Homo sapiens: one gene and its partners. The protein of the gene in region 1 purifies or fractionates together with the protein of each later gene. This does not show direct contact. Each region holds a gene or a part of one and is shown in the gene's direction. Other genes may lie near its edges. The genes, in order: FCHO1, ERCC6L and USP48.

Evidence for each region.
Region 2: the proteins of FCHO1 (region 1) and ERCC6L purify together in Homo sapiens (affinity purification with mass spectrometry; one large-scale study listed by BioGRID and IntAct). This does not show direct contact.
Region 3: the proteins of FCHO1 (region 1) and USP48 purify together in Homo sapiens (affinity purification with mass spectrometry; one large-scale study listed by BioGRID and IntAct). This does not show direct contact.

Annotation. Positions count from the first base shown.
Region 1 is NC_000019.10:17,785,734-17,789,176, forward strand, and holds the end of FCHO1 (F-BAR domain only protein 1), read left to right. Parts: intron 1-840; coding exon 841-896; intron 897-1,948; coding exon 1,949-2,113; intron 2,114-2,536; coding exon of another isoform or gene 2,537-2,550; coding exon 2,551-2,573; coding exon of another isoform or gene 2,574-2,677; 3' UTR 2,678-2,828; downstream 2,829-3,443. UniProt on the Homo sapiens protein: Functions in an early step of clathrin-mediated endocytosis. Has both a membrane binding/bending activity and the ability to recruit proteins essential to the formation of functional clathrin-coated pits.
Region 2 is NC_000023.11:72,211,463-72,215,112, reverse strand, and holds part of ERCC6L (DNA excision repair protein ERCC-6-like), read left to right. Parts: intron 1-3,650. UniProt on the Homo sapiens protein: DNA helicase that acts as a tension sensor that associates with catenated DNA which is stretched under tension until it is resolved during anaphase. Functions as ATP-dependent DNA translocase. Can promote Holliday junction branch migration (in vitro).
Region 3 is NC_000001.11:21,752,094-21,755,743, reverse strand, and holds part of USP48 (ubiquitin carboxyl-terminal hydrolase 48), read left to right. Parts: intron 1-2,624; coding exon 2,625-2,752; intron 2,753-3,092; coding exon 3,093-3,217; intron 3,218-3,650.

The DNA of each region.
Region 1 (3,443 bases):
TGAGGTGGGAGAATGGCGTGAACCCGGGAGGTGGAGGTTGCAGTGAGCTGAGATCATGCCACTGCACTCCAGCCTGGGCAACAGAGTGAGACTCCGTCTCAAAAAAAAAAAAAAATAGTAGTGGTAGTGTGCTCTTGTAGTCCCAGCTACTCGGGAGGCTGAGACAGAAGGATCACTTGAGCCCAGGAGTTGAGGCTTCAAGGAGTTACCCTGGGTGACAACTGTCTCTTAAAAAACAAAAATTTAAAAAAAAAAAAGTCTGTTGTGAAGAAGCCAGACTTATAGGACAGAATGCGTCATCTAAAAGTGCTGCAAGGAAGCCGGGCATGGTGGCTTATGCCTGTAATCCCAACACTTTGGAAGGCCAAGGCAGGTGGATCACCTGAGGTCAGCAGTTTGAGACCAGCCTGGCCAATATGGTGAAACCCCGTCTCTACTAAATTACAAAAATTAGCCAGGCGTGGTGGCGGGCGCCTGTAATCCCAGCTACTCAGGAGGCTGAGGGAGGAGAATCGCTTGAACCCAGGAGGCATAGGCTGCAGTGAGCAGAGATCGCACCAATGCACACCAGCCGGGGCGACAGAGGGAGACACCATCTCAAAAAAACACACAAAAAAACACAAAACAAACACACACACACACACACACACAGAAGTGTTGCAAGGCTGTGTGGCTCCACGGCTGTTCCATATCTCACCCTCATTTCACAGATGAGGAAATTGAGGTGAAGTGGGGGAGAAGGTTTGTTGGGGTCACACAGCCAGGAGGCAGCTGAGGCAGGACCCTGGGCTCTCAGCATCCTCTCTGGGGAAGCCCTGATTAAGATTCTTTCTCTGCCAGGAACCTGGAGGAGAAGCGGCTCACTTGGAGGCTTCCAGATGTGTCCGAGGCAGGCGGTGAGCTGTGGTTGTGTATGAGGGCTGGGTGGGAGGGACTGGGGTCAGGTGGGAGGCACTTATTTATGTTGGGGAAGAATTGGGGACATACTGAGGGCGGGCAAGTATGGGCATTGAGGAAGTCTTTAAAAGCTGGAGGAGGGCCGGGCTGAGTGGCATAGGTCTGTAATCCCAGTGCTTTGGGAGGCCCAGAATGCAGGATCACTTGAGTCCAGCAGTTGGAGGCTGCAGTGACCCGTGATCGTACCACTGCACTCTAGCCTGGGCAATAGAGCCAGACTCTGACTCAAAAACAAACAAACAAACAAAAAAGGCCAGGTGTGGTGGCTCACGCCTGTAATCCCAGCACTTTGGGAGGCCGAGGTGGGTAGATCACTTGAGGTCAGGAGTTCAAGACCAACCTGGCCAGCATGGTGAAACCCTGTCTCTACTAAAAATATAAAAATTAGCCGCGTGTGGTGGCACGCACCTGTGATCCCAGCTACTTGGGAGGCTGAGGCAGGAGAATCGCTTGAACCCAGTAGGTGAAGGTTGTAGTGAGCCGAGATCGTGCCACTGCACTCCAGCCAGGGTGACAGAGCGAGACTCTGTCTCAAAAAAAAAAAAAAAAAAAAAAAAAAAAAAGCTGGAGGAGGGCCAAGGACAGTGGCATAGGTCTGTAATCCCAGTGCTTTGGGAGGCCCAGGTGGGAGGATCACTTGAGCCCAGGAGTTAGAGGCTGCAGTGACCTATGATTGCACCACTATACTCCAGCCTGGGCAACAGAGCCAGACCCTGTCTCTAAAAAAAAAAAAAAAAAGCTGAAGGAGAGGGCGTCCCAGGGCCAGATGGCCAGACACAGCAGGTGCAAAGGCCCTGAGGCAGGACTCCCTTGCTAGCCATACAAAGCCCAGTGATGCCAGGAGAGACAGATGCAGGGGATCAAAGGGAGGTCTGATGGGGCACATAAAGGCCACAGAACAGAGGGCTTCAGGTGTGGGCCAAAGATGAGCCTGGTTCACAGCTGGGACGGGGGCTGGTGCCAGGGCGCAGCTGACTGCAGGTCTCCCCAGGTTCTGGCCGCCTCTCTGCCAGCTGGGAGCCGCTCTCAGGGCCCAGCACACCCAGCCCCGTGGCTGCACAGTTCACCAGCGAGGGGACCACTCTGTCGGGCGTGGACTTGGAACTGGTGGGCAGCGGTTACCGCATGTCGCTGGTGAAGAGGAGGTTTGCCACAGGTACTCCCCAACCCTGCTGCTGGGTGACCTCAGGAGCCGAGATCTTACAGGGGCAAGCCCCGGGGTGTGGGGAGGGATTGGGGTGTGGGGATCCTTGGGAAAGATAGGTGGGTGTTGGGGCCAGGAGACCCCAGATGGGGGGCACAGGTGGGCAAGGAGGCAGGGCCCTGTGTATCTGGGGCTGGCCCTTGGAGGACGTCCTTGGAAGGACCCCAGCCAGGGAGCCCGAAGTCCCCCCTGCCACCCCCTCCTCCAGCCCCACCCTGTTCTCCTGCCCCCAACAAGGGGCTCCTGGGGCCCAGTGGCAACAGGGACTATGAGTTACAGGGGTGTTTTGAAGAGGACAAGGATGATTGAAGCATCCCAGGGTCAGAGCCGGGGAACCCCTCCCGTACCCCTCCTCCCCACCCCTCCCCCTCACAGCTGCACCCCCACAGGGATGTACCTGGTGAGCTGCTGAACCCGCAAATGCTGCTGCCCCAGCTCTACACTGCGCCCTGGTGCTGGCTGACCACCCCCTGCCCTCCTGCCGGACCCTGGGGCCTCCCACCCCAGCCTCCCTGAGGCCCATACTCCACGGAGAGGAGCCCCATGCCCAGCCTGGCTGAGCCCGAGATTCGCTCCTCCCCCTCATGCCAACCCCACACAGGTCCCGGCCTTTTAATGTTCTTTGAATAAACACTTTATTTTCTAATAAAATAAAAAAGGAAACCTTTTCCTGCTCCAGGAAGTATCCTTTGCGTTGCCAGAGAGGGGAGGAAGAGAAGGTGGATGGATACGAGAGACCTAATGTACCTCCCTCCCTGCACTGCGCTCAACCGGTACAGGGCCATTCTGGGAGAGAAAGAACAACACAGATACCCCAGCCCCATGGGCTCAGAGGTGGGCTATAGGGAGGGAGGAGGACTACAGAAGCCCAGAAAGGGGTGTCAGGAGTCTTCCCAAGCAGTCAGGAAGACTTTCTAAGGAGGGGGCATTATAAATGAGGTTTTGAGGTATGAGTAGGAGTTTGCAAGATAGGAATGGGCATCCCAAGCAAAGTGATGGAAGGTTGTTAGTTCAATGAGGAAGCAATTAGTCAACCTACAAATATTAATTGAGTATCTACTGTATACCATGTAGCAGAGAGAGAGCTATGAGCAGGACAAAGTTCTTGGAACCCAGGAAGTGGAGATAGGAAGCCTGAGTGAGGAGCCTGCTTGGCGGCCACTGGCTGTGTGACTTTAAGCACGGGACTTGAGCCTCAGCTCATCTGCAACTCACCTCACTGGATATCTGTGGGAGGTCACACACTTAGAAGAGTGCCAACTACAGGGCAAAACCCCCACTA
Region 2 (3,650 bases), on another chromosome or scaffold:
CAGCATGTTTTTGAGATTCATACATGTATAAATTCATACATGTAGTAGTTTGTTCTTTTCTATTATTGAGTCCTTTGTATGAATATATCACAGATTGGTGGGTTTTTTTGTTTGTTTGTTTGTTTTGAGTCAGAGTCTTGCTTTTTCATCCAGGCTGGAGTGCAGTGGCTTGATCTTGGCTCACTGCAACCTCCATCTCCTGAGTTCAAGCGATTTTCCTGCCTCAGCCTCCTAAGTAGCTAGGATTACAGGAACCCGTCACCACACCTGGCTAATTTTTGTATTTTTAGTAGAGATGGTGTTCCACCATGATGGCAGGGCTAATCTCGAACTCCTGACCTCAAGTGATCTGCCCACCTCGGCCTCCCAAAGTGCTAGGATTACAGGTGTGAGCCACCGTGCCTGGCCTAAACTTTTGTTTTGTTTTTTTTTTTTTTTTTGAGATGGAGTCTCACTCTGTCATCCAGGCTGGAGTGCTGTGGCATGATCTCGGCTCACTGCAACTTCCGCCTCCCTGGTTCACATGATTCTCCTGCCTTTGCCTCCAGAGTAGATGGGATTACAGGTGCCTGCCACCATGCCTGGCTAATTTTTGTATTTTTAGTAGAGATGGGTTTCACCATGTTGGCCAGGCTGGTCTCAAACTCCTGACTTCAGGTGATCCAACCGCCTCGGCCTCCCAAAGTGCTGGGGTTGTTTCCAGTTTTTGGCTATTAAGAGTAAAGCAACATTGTTTGTTTTTTTGACTCTTAAATGCCTGTCTTATAAATGGCGCTAAGCAGGGAAAAGCTAATTATTAAATATTGTTTGACTGAAATGTGAACCACATTTTTCCCTAATTTATGTCAGAAATCACTATTTAATAATATTGTTTGTGTTTATATGTGATTTTAAAATGATCCCCACCTTAATTAAAATGACCATCCCTGAAAGTGAAGCCAAAAGGAAGGAATCCTCCTAGCCTACTCTGCCATGACTTGGGCTTTAAATGGACCTGTTTTCAATACTGGCATTCAGGTCACCTGCAATTTTTATGTTATCCAAATGTTTTATGTTTTATTGATTTTGATGGAGAATCAAAAGACATCTGTTGTGTCTAATGCATCTACATGCATCTTGACAAGGGGACTGGACATAGAGACATGTCAGGGAGCAGATACTCCAGGAGCTGGATCAGTATAGGGAAACTGTTAACGGACAGGTCTTTGTTCTCAGAGCTCCCAAGATAGTGGTGGGCCGCTCCCAAGATGGCAGCAAGCCTTTTGTTCTCTGACCTGGGGTTCTTGGCCTCACGGATTCCAAGGAATGGAACCTTGGGCCACATGGTGAGTGTTATAGCTCTATTAGAAGCCGTGGGTCATGGAAGAGAACCGTGGAACCCAGCAACTAGTGTTCAGCTGGATTAGGACGAACCCGGGCACTTAGCCATGCAGGAACAATGGCGAGCCTTTAGCCCGATTGGGAGCGGCAATGGGCGCCTTGCTATATCAGAAACGCAGCGGACACCCTGCCATATCTGGAGGGGTGGAAGTCAGCGATGGGTCTGCAACGGTGGCAAACAGCAGTGGTGGACGGTGAGCGAAAGCTCAGCTCGAGCCGTAACAAACACAGACCAGAAGAGTGTGCAGTTGCAAGATTTAATAGAGTGAAAACAGAGCTCCCATACAATGGGAGGGACCCAGACGAGGTTGCCCCTCCCGGCTCGAATGCCTGGATTTATATCCCGATCATTTTCCCTCCCCCTGTGCTCTCGGGCGATATATGATTTGACTATTTCTTTACCTCCTGCTTTTAGCCTAATTTGTATTTCAGTGAGCCCTCTTTACTACCTGATTGGTTGGGTGTGAGCTGAGTTATAAGCCCTGTATTTAAAGGTAGGTGTAGTCACCTTCCCCAGCTAGGCTTAGGAATTCTTAGTCAGCCTAGGAAATCCAGCAAGTCCTGTCTCTCAAAACTGGGTTCTTGTTGAGAGGACAGCAATAACCCCACTCACATGCGCCGAGATTAGCAGGTCTAGGCTCCTCCACCCCTATATGGGCCTAGTGGCTGGTGGCCAGATTACAAAACAAAGAGCATTTCTGATTGTTTTGCATGTGAAGAAAACAAAGTTTTATTGAGTTAGGGTCTTTGCATTCAGTTCTCTGTCTCTTCACATTCTTTTTTTTTTGAGACAGGGTCTGGCTCTGTAGCCCAGGCTGGAGTGCAGTGGTGACACGATCATAGCTCAATGCAACCCCTGCCTCCCAGGCTCAAGCCATCCCTCCCACCTTAGCCTCCCAGTAGCTGGGTCTAGGCGCATGCCACCAAACCCGGCTAATTTTTTTTCTATTTTTTGTAGAGACCAGGGCTTCACTATGTTGCCCAGGCTAGTCTCAAACTCCTGGGCTCAAGCAATCTGCCCGCCTTGGCCTCCCAAAGTACTGGGATTAGAGGCTCAAGCCACCGCTCCCAGCTGTCTCTTCACATTCTAAAATAACTTTGTAGGGAATGTTCTAAAGGGCCCTCCATAGCAAGGAAAATCAAGTGTGTGTCTTCTGCAACTTAAGCTTGTGTGCCTTTTCAGCTGCTCATTTGTAAACACTGTGTGTTTAACTTAGCTTAGCTCTTTGGGGCATAGGTCTAATAGTATGGCTTATGGGTTTCTCCAGATAGAAAAACTTTTCAGCATCTGAACTGGCAGACCCTCTGTGGAGAAGAAAGGTTTCTCAAGGTATCAGCCAGTTCCAAAGGGAGGTGGATTAGATGTTGAGAGGTTAATTGGCTATGGTCAAGGAAAATGTTTGCATCTGAGGAAATAGCTTTGGGGCAGAGATGATTTTATTATTATTATTATTATTTTTTTTGAGATGGGGTCTCGCTGTGGTGCACGGTTGGAGTGTAGTGGTGCGATCTTGGCTCACTGCAACCCCCGCCTTTCACGTGATTCTCATGCCTCAGCCTCCCGAGTAGCTGGGATTACAGGCACCCACCACCATGCCCGGCTAATTTTTTTGTATTTTTAGTAGAGACGGGGTTTCACCATGTTGGCCAGGCTGGTCCTGAACTCCTGACTTCAGGTGATTCAACCGCCTCAGCCTCCCAAAGTGCTGGGATTACAGGCATGAGCCACCATGCCCAGCCACAGAGATGATTTTATATGGCCACTTGGGCAGGGCTTCTTATAGAGAGACCTTTAGGTGGGGTTATGACCCAGGGGGTTAGCAACTGGGCAGTTTTGCCAGCGAAAGTGTAGCTTTCCAGGTAACAGGACTTTGTAGCCCAAGTTTAATTGTTGTATCACCTTCCTCCAGGAGTTGTTTGTATATAATATTTCTTTTTTTTTTTATTTTTGAAACGGGTCTTGCTCTGTCACCCAGGCTGTAGTGCAGTGGTGCGATCATGGCTCACTGCAGCCTAGACCTCCCATGCTGAAGCGAACTTCTTGCCTCAGCCTCCTGAATAGCTGGGACTGACTACAGGTGTGTGCCACTGATATGGTTTGGCTGTGACCCCACCCATAATCTCATCTTGAATTGTAATCCAGATTGTAATCCTCAATCTCATCTTGAATTGTAATCCAGACTGTAATCCTCACGTGTTTGGGGAGACACCTTGTGGGAGGTGATTAGATGTCCTTTAAAATAATCCTTAAAGAGAAACATGCTCTAGTC
Region 3 (3,650 bases), on another chromosome or scaffold:
AGCTTTTACCAGCCTGCAAAACCTTTGCACCCCAAGGAGTAATATTTTATCTTTATTTTACAGATGGTATATTGACTTGCTGAAAGCCACAATTGGTAGTAAGGATACAAATATTCAGAGTCTGATTAGAAGACAGAAGCTACACAATAATTTGAACAGAAAAGGTTTTTTTTTATTGTTTGTTTGTTTTTTGAGACAAGATCTCACTTTTTCGCCCAGGCTGGTGCGAGCACAGCTCACTGTAGCCTCAACCTCCCAGGCTCAAGCAATCCTCCTGCCAGAGCCCCCCCGAGTAGTTGGAACTACAGGCATGCACCACCACCTCTTGCTAATTTTTGTGTTTTTTTTGGAGACAGCATTTTACCATGTTGCCCAGGCTGGTCTCAAACTCCTGGGTTCAATCGATCCACCTTCCTTGGTCTCCCAGAGTGCTGGGATTACAGGCATGAGCCACAGCACCTGGCCTTGAATAGCTTTTACTGGCCTGCAATGCTTTTGCAGGCCAAGGAGTAATATTTTATCTTTATTTTGAAGATGATATATTGACTTGCTGAAAGCCACAGTTGGTAGTAAGGAGATAAATATAGTCCAGTTAGAAGACAGAAGCTACAGAATAATTTGAAAAGGGAAAGTTGAGAATTAATAACAGAATTAATTAGAGAAATGAGGAATTGATTAATAAGAGTTAAAGATTAAAGAGGATTTTAAAGAATACAAGGACAGCAGATACAGGGAACAACCTGTATCCCTGGGGCTGAAAGAGAACATCCAACGGATAGTCTGTCACCCCCATGGCCCAGGCTTGAGATCCAGACCTCTTTGGACACTGCTGGGATGCACTGGGTGGCTGAAAAGGTGCTGAGATGCCTCCCTGGGAATCCCTACTAGAAACTGTCCATGAGAAGGTGCTGGGCCCTGGAACCCCCTACAGAGTCACCTGAGAGAGTGTCCGGGAGGCCATTCACAGGGTGGTCATTCGAGAGGAAATGCCTCACTGGAGGCACTGTACTGTGAAGCTATCAGAAGAGGTGCTGGGTAAGCTGCTGACTACTGTTAGGGGCAGGAACCTGGAGCCCTGGAGGAAGCTGATCTGCAGCAGGCTGGTGACAGAGGCACAACCAAACCCTGCAGTGCCCTTCACTGAGAAGCCTTACCTTCTTGATAACTGGCAAAGGAGAAGTATTTGCAGAGCCCATCTCTCATCACTGAGCAGGCAAAGAAGGGTAGATTTGGAGCTGAGAAGCAATAAGTTAATAACTTAAAGAAGATAAGACTTCTGTCTTCTGGGCTCTCAATATCCATGCTTTCTGCTTCCATTCCCTGCACTAGCTCATTAAAACTTTCAACTCTAAAATTCTACGGTTTTGTATTCTTCACTTAAGTGTGAATTGCTGTGCTTGAGATCCCAAGTCCACATTAACTGGACTTTAAAAAATCATGACTAGACACTGTAGTCATGATTGCTGTTGTTGCTTTAATACAGGTAGGCTCTTGCCTTTGGGGAGTGTATATGGACAGTCCTGGCTGCCTCATGACTTCCACAAAACATGGTTGCTAATTCTATTTCTTTTTTTTTTTCCTCCCAGATGGAGTCTCACTCTGTTGCCCAGGCTGGAGTGCAGTGGCACAATCTTGGCTAACTACAACCTCCGCCTGTCGGGTTCAAGTGATTCTCCTGCCTCAGCCTCCCGAGTAGCTGGGATTACAGGCGTGTACTACCATGCCCCACTAATTTTTGTATTTTTAATAGAGACGGGGTTTCGCCATGTTGGCCAGGCTGGTCTGGAACTCCCGACCTTGTGATCCGCCAGCCATGGCCTCCCAAAGTGCTGGGATTACAGGCGTGAACCACTGCTTCCAGCCTTGAGCCACTGCGCCAGCCCTGTCTTTTAAAGTTTTTTTTTTTTTTTTTTTTTTTTTAAAGAGTCTCGCTCTGTCATCCAGGCTGGAGTGCAGTGGCATGATCTCTGCTCACCACAACCTCCACCTCCTGGGTTCAAGCTATCCTTGAACCCCAGCCTCCCAAGTAGCAGGGATTACAGGTGCTCGCCACCACACCCAGCTACTTTTTGTATTTTTAGTAGAGACAGGGTTTTACCATGTTGGCCAGGCTGGTCTTGAACTCCTGACCTCAGATTATTCGCCCGCCTCTGCCTCCCAAAGTGCGGGGATTACGAGTGTGAGCCACCGTGCCCAGCCTTGTTTTTTGTTTTTGAGAGTCTCACTTTGTTGGCGATCTCACCTCACTGCAGCCTCTTCCTCCCGCGCTCAATAGATGCTCGTGTCTCAGCCTCCCAAGTAGCTGGGATTACATGTGTGCACCACCACACCCGGCTAATATTTGTATTTTTTTTAGTGGAGACGGGGTTTCTCCATATTGGCCAGGCTTGTCTCAAGCTTCTGATCTCAAGTGATCTGCCTGCTTTGGCCTCCCAAAGTGCTGGGGTTACAGGCATGAGCCACCGTGCTCAGCCTATTTCTTTTAAAGTTTTAAAATGATAATAAAGTATTAATCTAGTTTGGATGTAGAGATGTTTATGTTCTCATGTGAAGAGGAAGTACCATTTTTTGGAAAGAAAAGTAGCACCTTAAAAAACCCCAAATCTATATTTTTGTTTTAATAGATTATGAGCCTCAAACAATTTGTGAGCATCTCCAGTACTTGTTTGCCTTGTTGCAAAACAGTAATAGGCGATACATTGATCCATCAGGATTTGTTAAAGCCTTGGGCCTGGACACTGGACAACAGCAGGTAAGAACTGAATTTTTTTTTTTTTTTAAATATTCAGAGGTACCCAAACATCCTAAGCATGTTTATAAAGGGAGATGAAGTAGAATGCTTTTTAAAAATTAAATTTTTTCTATTTTGAATGAAAACCTTTATTTACTGTCCAATAGTTTACACATTATACTTGATTCCATTTATGGAAATTCATATGGGGGCACAAACTGATTGAACATAGCTGTAGCCCCTGTTTGAAAATGCTAAGTTGAAAGTATAGGTAGTTTCTGGAATGTTGAATGTATTACTATTTGTAGTAGAAGTTGAAAAGCAAGATATGATTTTTCTTTTCATTAACCTAAACTTGTAGGATGCTCAAGAATTTTCAAAGCTCTTTATGTCTCTATTGGAAGATACTTTGTCTAAACAAAAGAATCCAGATGTGCGCAATATTGTTCAACAGCAGTTCTGTGGAGAATATGCCTATGTAACTGTGTAAGTCTGTTTCAACTTTTTCATGGTACATTTTATTCTAAGACAGTTGCTCATATGTTAACTATTTTTCAGTGCAGTTCCAGGTTGTAGCTTTAGTGGTTTATCATGGGACCTGAAATATTTATAGTAATACATTTCCATGGGAACATATAAACAAGTGAGTTGGTAATTGCAGTTGCACCCATCCAGGTGTTAGGAACGGTGTCTGGGTGAGCTCTTGCAGTCTGCTCTTGCTTTATGGCTGTGTGGTGTGAGCTAAAGAGTAAGATTGGAACTGGCTAGAATACTAAAAGTAAATGTAAAATGCCTGTTAAAAAAATGTGCATGAGTACAATATACAACATTTGGGTGATGGTTACATTAAAACCTAGACTTCACCACAGTGCGATATATTCATGTAACAAAACTGCACTTGTACCTCTTAACATTTATT